Linked DNA regions of Homo sapiens. The protein of the gene in region 2 purifies or fractionates together with the protein of the main gene of each other region. This does not show direct contact. Each region holds a gene or a part of one and is shown on either strand. Other genes may lie near its edges. The genes, in order: MAPK1 and HMMR.

Region 1 (3,821 bases), on a different chromosome or scaffold from region 2:
CAATGGCTCACGCCTGTAATCCCAGCACTTTGGGAGGCCGAGGCAGGTGGATCACCTGAGGTCAGGAGTTTGAGACCAGCCTGGACAACATGGCGAAATCCTGTCTCTACTAAAAATACAAAAATTAGCCAGGCATGGTAGCACACACCTGTAATCCCAGCCACTCAGGAGGCTGAGGCAGAATTGCTTGAACCCAGGAGGCAAGGTTGCAGTGAGCCTCCAAGCAAAACTCTGTCTCAAAAAAAAAGTAAGTAAGTAGGCAAAATGGGCAGAAAGCATAAGAGATAAAGTGGGAGTGGAACTGGCAGACAGAAACAGGGCCATCCTTTAATGACTCCGTCACCCACAAGATCAAGTCCAAAGTCCTTACCAAATAATGCCCTTCAGGATTTGGCCCTGCCTACCCCCAGCTGTCTCAACTCCCACCTTCTTACTAAGGCACCCTACACTCCAGCCTTCCCAAGTAATTTGTGGTTTTCCTGACCTGATGCACTGTGTTCACGGTCTGTGCCTTTACATGCACACTTCGCTTTGCCTAGAAGGCATTTCTCAAGGCAAACTCCTACTCACACATCAACACCTAGCTCAGAAGTCTGGGAAGCCAAAGAAAGACAGCCCCAAGTCACTCAGCTCTTCTCTTCCTCTCAGCACTTCACAAACTCCTGGGTAACACTGGTATCTTCTCTGTATTATTCCCCAATTCCATCCCATTATTTGGATGAAGAGTTCAATAAACATTTTCTGAGTAAATAACTCTACATGAAAGGTTTTAAAGGCTAAAAAGTGATACAAGCAAAAGCAGACAACAGATATTTCTTGTTACTGAAATAATCTATTTTCTCAACTCTGATCTTTGGTGGAGCACTACTTAGGAACCAGAAAAACTGGGGTTGCTTCATCACTTCCTAGCTGTGTGTCATTGGGCAAGTTAACTAACCTCTGTGTGCCTCAAGTTTCTTCACTTGTGGGGTAAAAAACAAACAGAAGTTACCACTTTTGCTGTACAGTTATATGGCTTAGCATTAATGTATGTAAAATACAAAACAAGAGTGCTGAAAAAGTGGTAGTTCTACTAGTCTGCTATAATCACAATAACCTTAACAAGACAGGAGGACATTGTACCATCAGGAATGTGATCACAATGAAATTTTAGTTGAAACCATCCCCCTCTTTTTTCTTTTATTCATTCAGCTTTCCCAAGTTGAACATCCCCGCTTTAAAAAAAAAAAAAAAGAGGCCAGGCACAGTGGTTCACACTGTAATCCTAGCACTTTGGGAGGCTGAAGCAGGGGGATCACCTGAGGTCAGGAGTTTGAGACCAGCCTGGCCAACATGGCAATACCCCGTCTCTACTAAAAATAAAAAAATTAGCCGGGTGTGGTGGCACACACCTGTAATCCTAGCTACTCGGGAGGCTGAGGCAAGAGAATCACTTGAACCCAGGAGGCGGAGGTTGCAGTGAGCCGAGATTGTGCAACTGCACTCCAGCCTGGGCGACAGAACAAGACTCTGTCTCAAAAAAAAAAAGAGCTGAAAGTCAACAAATATAATGGCTTGTCAGCTGCATTCTGTTTCCCTCCTATAGTACTCAATACCAATCCCTTAATGAGTACCATCTCCCTTGGCTCCTTTGATAACGTGCACTCCCAGTTCTTTGGTCTCTCTGGCCACATTTCCTCTGTCCTCTTCCATAACTTGACCTTTATTGACACAGTAAAGGCAGGCACTCCTTTGGCTTAGTTCTCAGATGTCTTATCCACTCTTAAGGCTTCAATTAATATCTCTATGAAGATGACCCCATGAGCTCTCTTGTCGCATTCAGAAACAGCATTTCAAACTCAATTAAACCAAAATAGACACTTGCTATCTTAGTCTAAGATGACCAAGCATACTAAGAGTGTTTCAATCTCTCCTCCTCTCCCTCCTCCCCGTCTACACTGTTCCCTTATACATCTGACCAGTCATCAGTTTCCTCTTCTTTGCCAGAGTTACCTGGTTGGTCCTCTGTTCTACTTCAGTGGTTCTTAATGTTTCCAGGATAATGGACTCATTTGAAAATCTATCAAATGCTATGTATTTTTTAACCAAAAAGATAAATATAGAAAACATATAATTACAATTTCTTTTTTTTTTTTTTTTGAGACCCAGTCTTGCTCTGTCACCCAGGCTGGAGTACAGTGGCGCGATCTTGGCTCACTGCAAGCTCTGCCTCCCGGGTTCACACCATTCTCCTGCCTCAGCCTCCCCAGCAGCTGAGACTACAGGCGCACACCGCCACGGCCGGCTACTTTTTTTTTTTGTATTTTTAGTAGAGATAGGGTTTCACCATGTTAGCCAGGATGGTCTCGATCTCCTAACCTCGTGATCCGCCCACCTGGGCCTCCCAAAGTGCTGGGATTATAGGCGTGAGCCACCGCGCCTGGCCATGATTGCAATTTCACCTAACCAATGACCCAGATAAGAATCTGTGCTCATCCACTCAAGATTTTAACTACCATTTACACAAATTTTCATCTCCAGCTCCTGCTCCCCTCTTACAAATTTTAAGATGGTTTCTGGATATAGCCTGAATGGCCTACAGGCATTACAAACTTAAGTTCAAACCAGAACTATTTCCCCCTGACAAATCTGCTCTAACAGTATTCCTTTACTTGGATAATGGCACCACCATCTCCCAGGCTCCCAACCTAGAGGCCTCAGAATGAACAACCGCCCATAGCCAATCAACCAGCAAGCCTTGTTCTATCTCAGAAATCCCTCCAAATCCAAATCCCACCTCTCTTGGTCTCTTACCCTTTAAGGTCTCATAATCCTTTGATTCCACTCAGACTTGCCATGATTAAAAGTCTTTTTACCACTCTTCCCACAAGGGTCCCTGTTACTATTTCTGTCAATACAAAACTCCTCACCTCCATCTGCTACCTTCCGCTGCCACTTTATTACTGCACCTCTAGGTGGTTAGGCTTTCCTAATTTATTCCTCCACTCCGGTTCTTCTTCCTTCATTCCCACTAGTGTTGATTTGTCTTCCCAAAAAATTTCAAAATTGACCATGTATGACTGCCTCTTTCAAAAAAAGGCCGGGCACGGTGACTAAAGCCTGTAATCACAGCACTTTGGGAGGCTGAAGTCAGGGGGACCACCTGAGGTCAGGAGTTTGAGACCATCTTGGCCAACATGGCAAAACGCTGTCTCTACAAAAATACAAAAAAAAAATTAGCTGAGCATGGTGGCACGCGCCTGTAGTCCCAGCTACTCAGGAGGCTGAGGCAGGAGAATCGCTTGAACCTAGGAGGCAGAGGTTGCAGTGAGCCGAGGTCATGCCACTGCACTACAGCCTAGGCAACAAGAGTGAGACTCCACCTCAAAAAAAAAAATAAACAAATAAATAAATAAATAAGATGCTTCCTCCACTGAACAAATATACAGTCAAACTTAGTTTTGCCTTTGGAGTCCTCTACAGTTTGCCACCTAAGTACATTTCCAAGATTAGATTCCACAGCTCAAGCTGTCACTTGTTCCTATTATCTGCATATCAAAATCACACCCACTCTTAAAGGCCCAACTCAAATCCCACTCTTCATCTTTACATCCTCTACATAATCATTAGGAAAGGACTCTAAACAAAATAGTCACAATTCCTAATGAACTGATAAGGAAACAGAAGGGGGTAAATCTAAAAAATGGCTAGAAATCCATAAATCCTTTTGGAAGCATTTTTTAAAAGATCACCATTCAAATATTAGTGAATATTTCAACGAGCCCTCCATAAATCCAGCACTGTTAGCCAATATTTATTAAATGCTAATAATGTGCAATGGA
Region 2 (3,821 bases):
TTATCTATGTGTCTGTCATAATGTATCACATGTGGGAACAGATCACTGGGGAAACAAGGTACAATTTAATGAATTAAATTAAACTAGGCAGTTGGTTGTCCATAGGGAAAACAAAAAATGAATTTGATCCCTATATTGCTACACACACAGAAATCAGTTCTAGGTGGAAAAATGGAAAGTGAAATTTTAAGACTTTTAGAAGAAAACTGGTTGAATATCTTTACACCTTGAGATAGAAAGAAGTTCTTAAATGAGAAGCAAAAGTACCCACATACAGATAAATATTTTAACCATATTGAAATCAAGAATTTCCACTCATCAGAAGAAACCAAAAAGAAAATAAAAAAATAAGCTAAACTGGCAGAAGATACCTGTAACCCATATGGCTGATAAAGAAAACCTCTACAAATCAATGAGGAAAAGATGATAACCCTATAGACAAATAAACAAAAGTCATAAACAAGCATTTTATGGAAAAGGAAAGATGAATTATCCACAATAAGAAGCCATTTTACACTAAGTACACTGGCAAAGTTTAAGAAGTCTAACAAGCTTTGGCAAAGAAGATAAATGGAAACTTATACAACACTAGTGGGAGTGTAGATTCTTACTCCCACATTGGAAAGTGATTTGATATTAAGTTTTAGAGTTGAACATTCATATACCTTTGGCTTTAGAGAAATTCTTACATACATGTATTCTTATAGTCACAAAATAACTAATAATAACTAACCAAATGGGAAACAACTCAAAGTCCAAAGAATGAATAAATAAGTTGTGGTATATTCATACAATAAAATACTCATAGCAGTGACTATCAACAAACCATAGCCTCAGACAACACAATTCAATCCTGAAAACACACATAATGCAGAATGAAAAAATAAGTCCCAGGAAACGGCATATACTATGATGACATTTTTTGGTAAAGTTCAAGGAGAAGGAAAATTACATAATGCATTATTTGTATGGATATACGTGTCATAAAATTATAATACACAGGGGGGAAAAAGCAAGGAAATAATTAGTGTAGACTTCAGGACAGTGTTATCTGTCCCATTTTCATGGGATGGCAGAGGAACTTACATATGGATACTAAGTTGTTGAAAATCTTTTGGCTTACTGGTTGTCTTTTATAGGTTCATGCATGTCAGTTTTATCTTCAAGCTCTACAGTTTATGTACATGTTATGCATTCTTTTGTATTTATTAAATAAAAGAAAGGAAACTCTCCCCCAAAATGAGCTAAAGTAAATGTGATAAATAAAAATGTTAACATTAATATATAGGTATTCATTATATTGGCCTTTGTAATTTGTAGTTCCACCCAAAATAAACTTTTTATTTAAGGAGAAAATAAGTAGAAGGCATGGGAGGTGAGGAAGTGGATATAGAGACAATCTTCTCTGTCAAGAGAAGAAAAAGGAGGAGAAGGAAAAGGACTGAAAAGGAGTAGAATTTGGGGTTAAGAAGGGAATGACTGGTGGTGTGAGACAGCTACAAAAGGAAGTTAGGGTCAGAGAAGTATTTAAAACAACTTATGTATTTTATTTATTTTTCGTTTGTTTTTGAGACAGTCTTGCTCTGTCACCCAGGCTGGAGCGCAGTGGTGTGATCTTAGCTCAGTGCAGCCTGGAACTCCTGGGCTCAGGTGATCCTCCTGCCCTCAGCCTCCCAAGTAGCATGTGCCACAATGCCTGGCTAATTCTTAATATTTTTTTTTGTAGAAACAAGGTCTTACTCTATTGCCCAGGCTGGTCTCAAACTCCTGACCTCAAGCAATCCTCCTGCCTTGGTCTCCCAAAGCACTGGGATTACTGGTATGAGCCACAGTGGCCAGCTAATTAATATATTTTACAGACAGATGTACATTAACATGTTTTAATATTGATTGGAAAAATTCCAGTAAAAAGGTTTCAAATTATGAGAAAACAAAATGATAGAATGAGGTCACTGAAGATTAAAAGACTAGGACATTTCATCTGTAATAGGTGGGAAGATAGGATGAGTATAAATGTGGGTCTCTTTATAGGTTTAGCAAGAGATAAAAACTTCTGAATTCTTTATGAAAATGATAACATCAAGAGAGTAGGGCAGAAGCACCAAATGCTTCTAAGTACATGACTTGATCCTCCCACCTCAGCTTATGCAGTGGCTAGGACTACAGGCATATGCTGCCGCACCTGGCTCAGCACATAAAAGTTGAAGTGGATGGTGAGAAAGGGGAATTTCTATAAATTATAAAGGGGAATTATATAAATACAATAAGATTACCAGATAATGCTAAATGCCCACTTACGGTTGGTGATTATGGAATTTAAACTAGTATGAATCATCCTTTGTGTGACTGCTTTGCTCACATATTTCCTGGGGTAAACACCCCTTTCTGCACACATCATATTTAAGAGTGCAGGCTCCCAAGAAAAATACCTTTCAAATTGAGCAGTAACATCTTCAAGGCTTTGCACCATACTGTCATACTTTTCCTGCAAAAGCAGGGTGGCCTGGGTATGAGCAGCACTACTTTTCTCCAGTTCAGCCTCCTTCCTAAGAAAAAGAAATAATTGAAAGATAAAATGCCACCTACAATTACTACCCTAAGAAAGAAAATAGTATTTACCTTTGAAACTGTGAATCATATAGCTCATATCTTCACCACTGCATTACCTGCTAAATAGCTCAGATCCTAATTTATGACTTACCTCGAAAGCATGTTTTTTATGCATTTTTCTACTAGCTTCAACTTATCTTTCCTGCTTATTTTACTTTAAAAATTTGGGTGAAGAAGGTAGTAGGATATAAAAGACTATAAAACCAAATCTTAAGATACTAGCCAGGACTAAAGACTGCAAAAGATTACCAGTCAAAAAACATCTGGATTGAATAAAGTTTCATTCTCTCCATTTAGACACTTGAGAAATACCATGAACAATTAAAGCCACTTCATTTTAAACTACAGAGTTACAAGACTTTGTGGATTTATTCTGATTATATGAATAACCCACATAATACTCTATTACTGAAAGACTTAATAACTTCTTTAATGGATTATTTTGCATAGACAGAATGGGTTTTAAGTCATTTTTATATACATATGCTATTAAATCTCAGGGATATTTTGGAAATAATATATTTCCAAAGTGGTGATAAAATTTTTAGATATGCATATGAGCTTATGAGAGATCTTTTAAAGAATATACAGAACTAAAAATTGTAAATAAGCATTGTGTACTTATAGACTAAGTTGGACACTGAGATAAGAAAAATAGCTGATCAAATTCATTCTGTAACAAGTGCCGGATTTCAAAAATATACACACCACAGCAAGAGCAATCAAATATGACTAAAGAGTTTATAATAAAAATATTTTCTTCCCTGTCCCCTAGAGGAATTATTTTCAATTCTTAGTTTGTTTTTCTCTTAAGCTTGAAATTTCCAGGCTAGAAGGGATCTTAGAGACCATCTAATAAAACTCTTTTATATCTAATGAAGTAGAAGATCAAAGAAACTAAGATTGTTTTGCTCAGAATCAACCAGCTAGCTAACAGAATTAGTAATAAAAATCCTTATCTCTTGACCATTGGACCACAGTTTTTTGAGTTGGAATAAAAAATTATCTCAATTTTCTTTCCTCTCTTAAAATGACATTATCTTATTTTCCCAAGATTCCTGTTCCCTGAGATTGGCTGTAGTATAGAACAACACCCCTAATTACAATTTTGTATTGTTCCCCCAAAAGCAGGGATATGAAAAACCTTGCTGTTCATTTGCATCACTAATCATAAGAAAACAGAAAAGATTAATAACAAAAGTATCCACTGA

Evidence for each region.
Region 1: the proteins of HMMR (region 2) and MAPK1 purify together in Homo sapiens (affinity purification with mass spectrometry; 4 studies listed by BioGRID and IntAct, with this or other methods). This does not show direct contact.

What each region holds. Positions count from the first base shown.
Region 1 is NC_000022.11:21,861,146-21,864,966, forward strand, and holds part of MAPK1 (mitogen-activated protein kinase 1), read right to left. Parts: intron 1-3,821. UniProt on the Homo sapiens protein: Serine/threonine kinase which acts as an essential component of the MAP kinase signal transduction pathway. MAPK1/ERK2 and MAPK3/ERK1 are the 2 MAPKs which play an important role in the MAPK/ERK cascade.
Region 2 is NC_000005.10:163,477,409-163,481,229, reverse strand, and holds part of HMMR (hyaluronan mediated motility receptor), read right to left. Parts: intron 2,547-3,821; coding exon 2,430-2,546; intron 1-2,429. UniProt on the Homo sapiens protein: Receptor for hyaluronic acid (HA). Involved in cell motility. When hyaluronan binds to HMMR, the phosphorylation of a number of proteins, including PTK2/FAK1 occurs.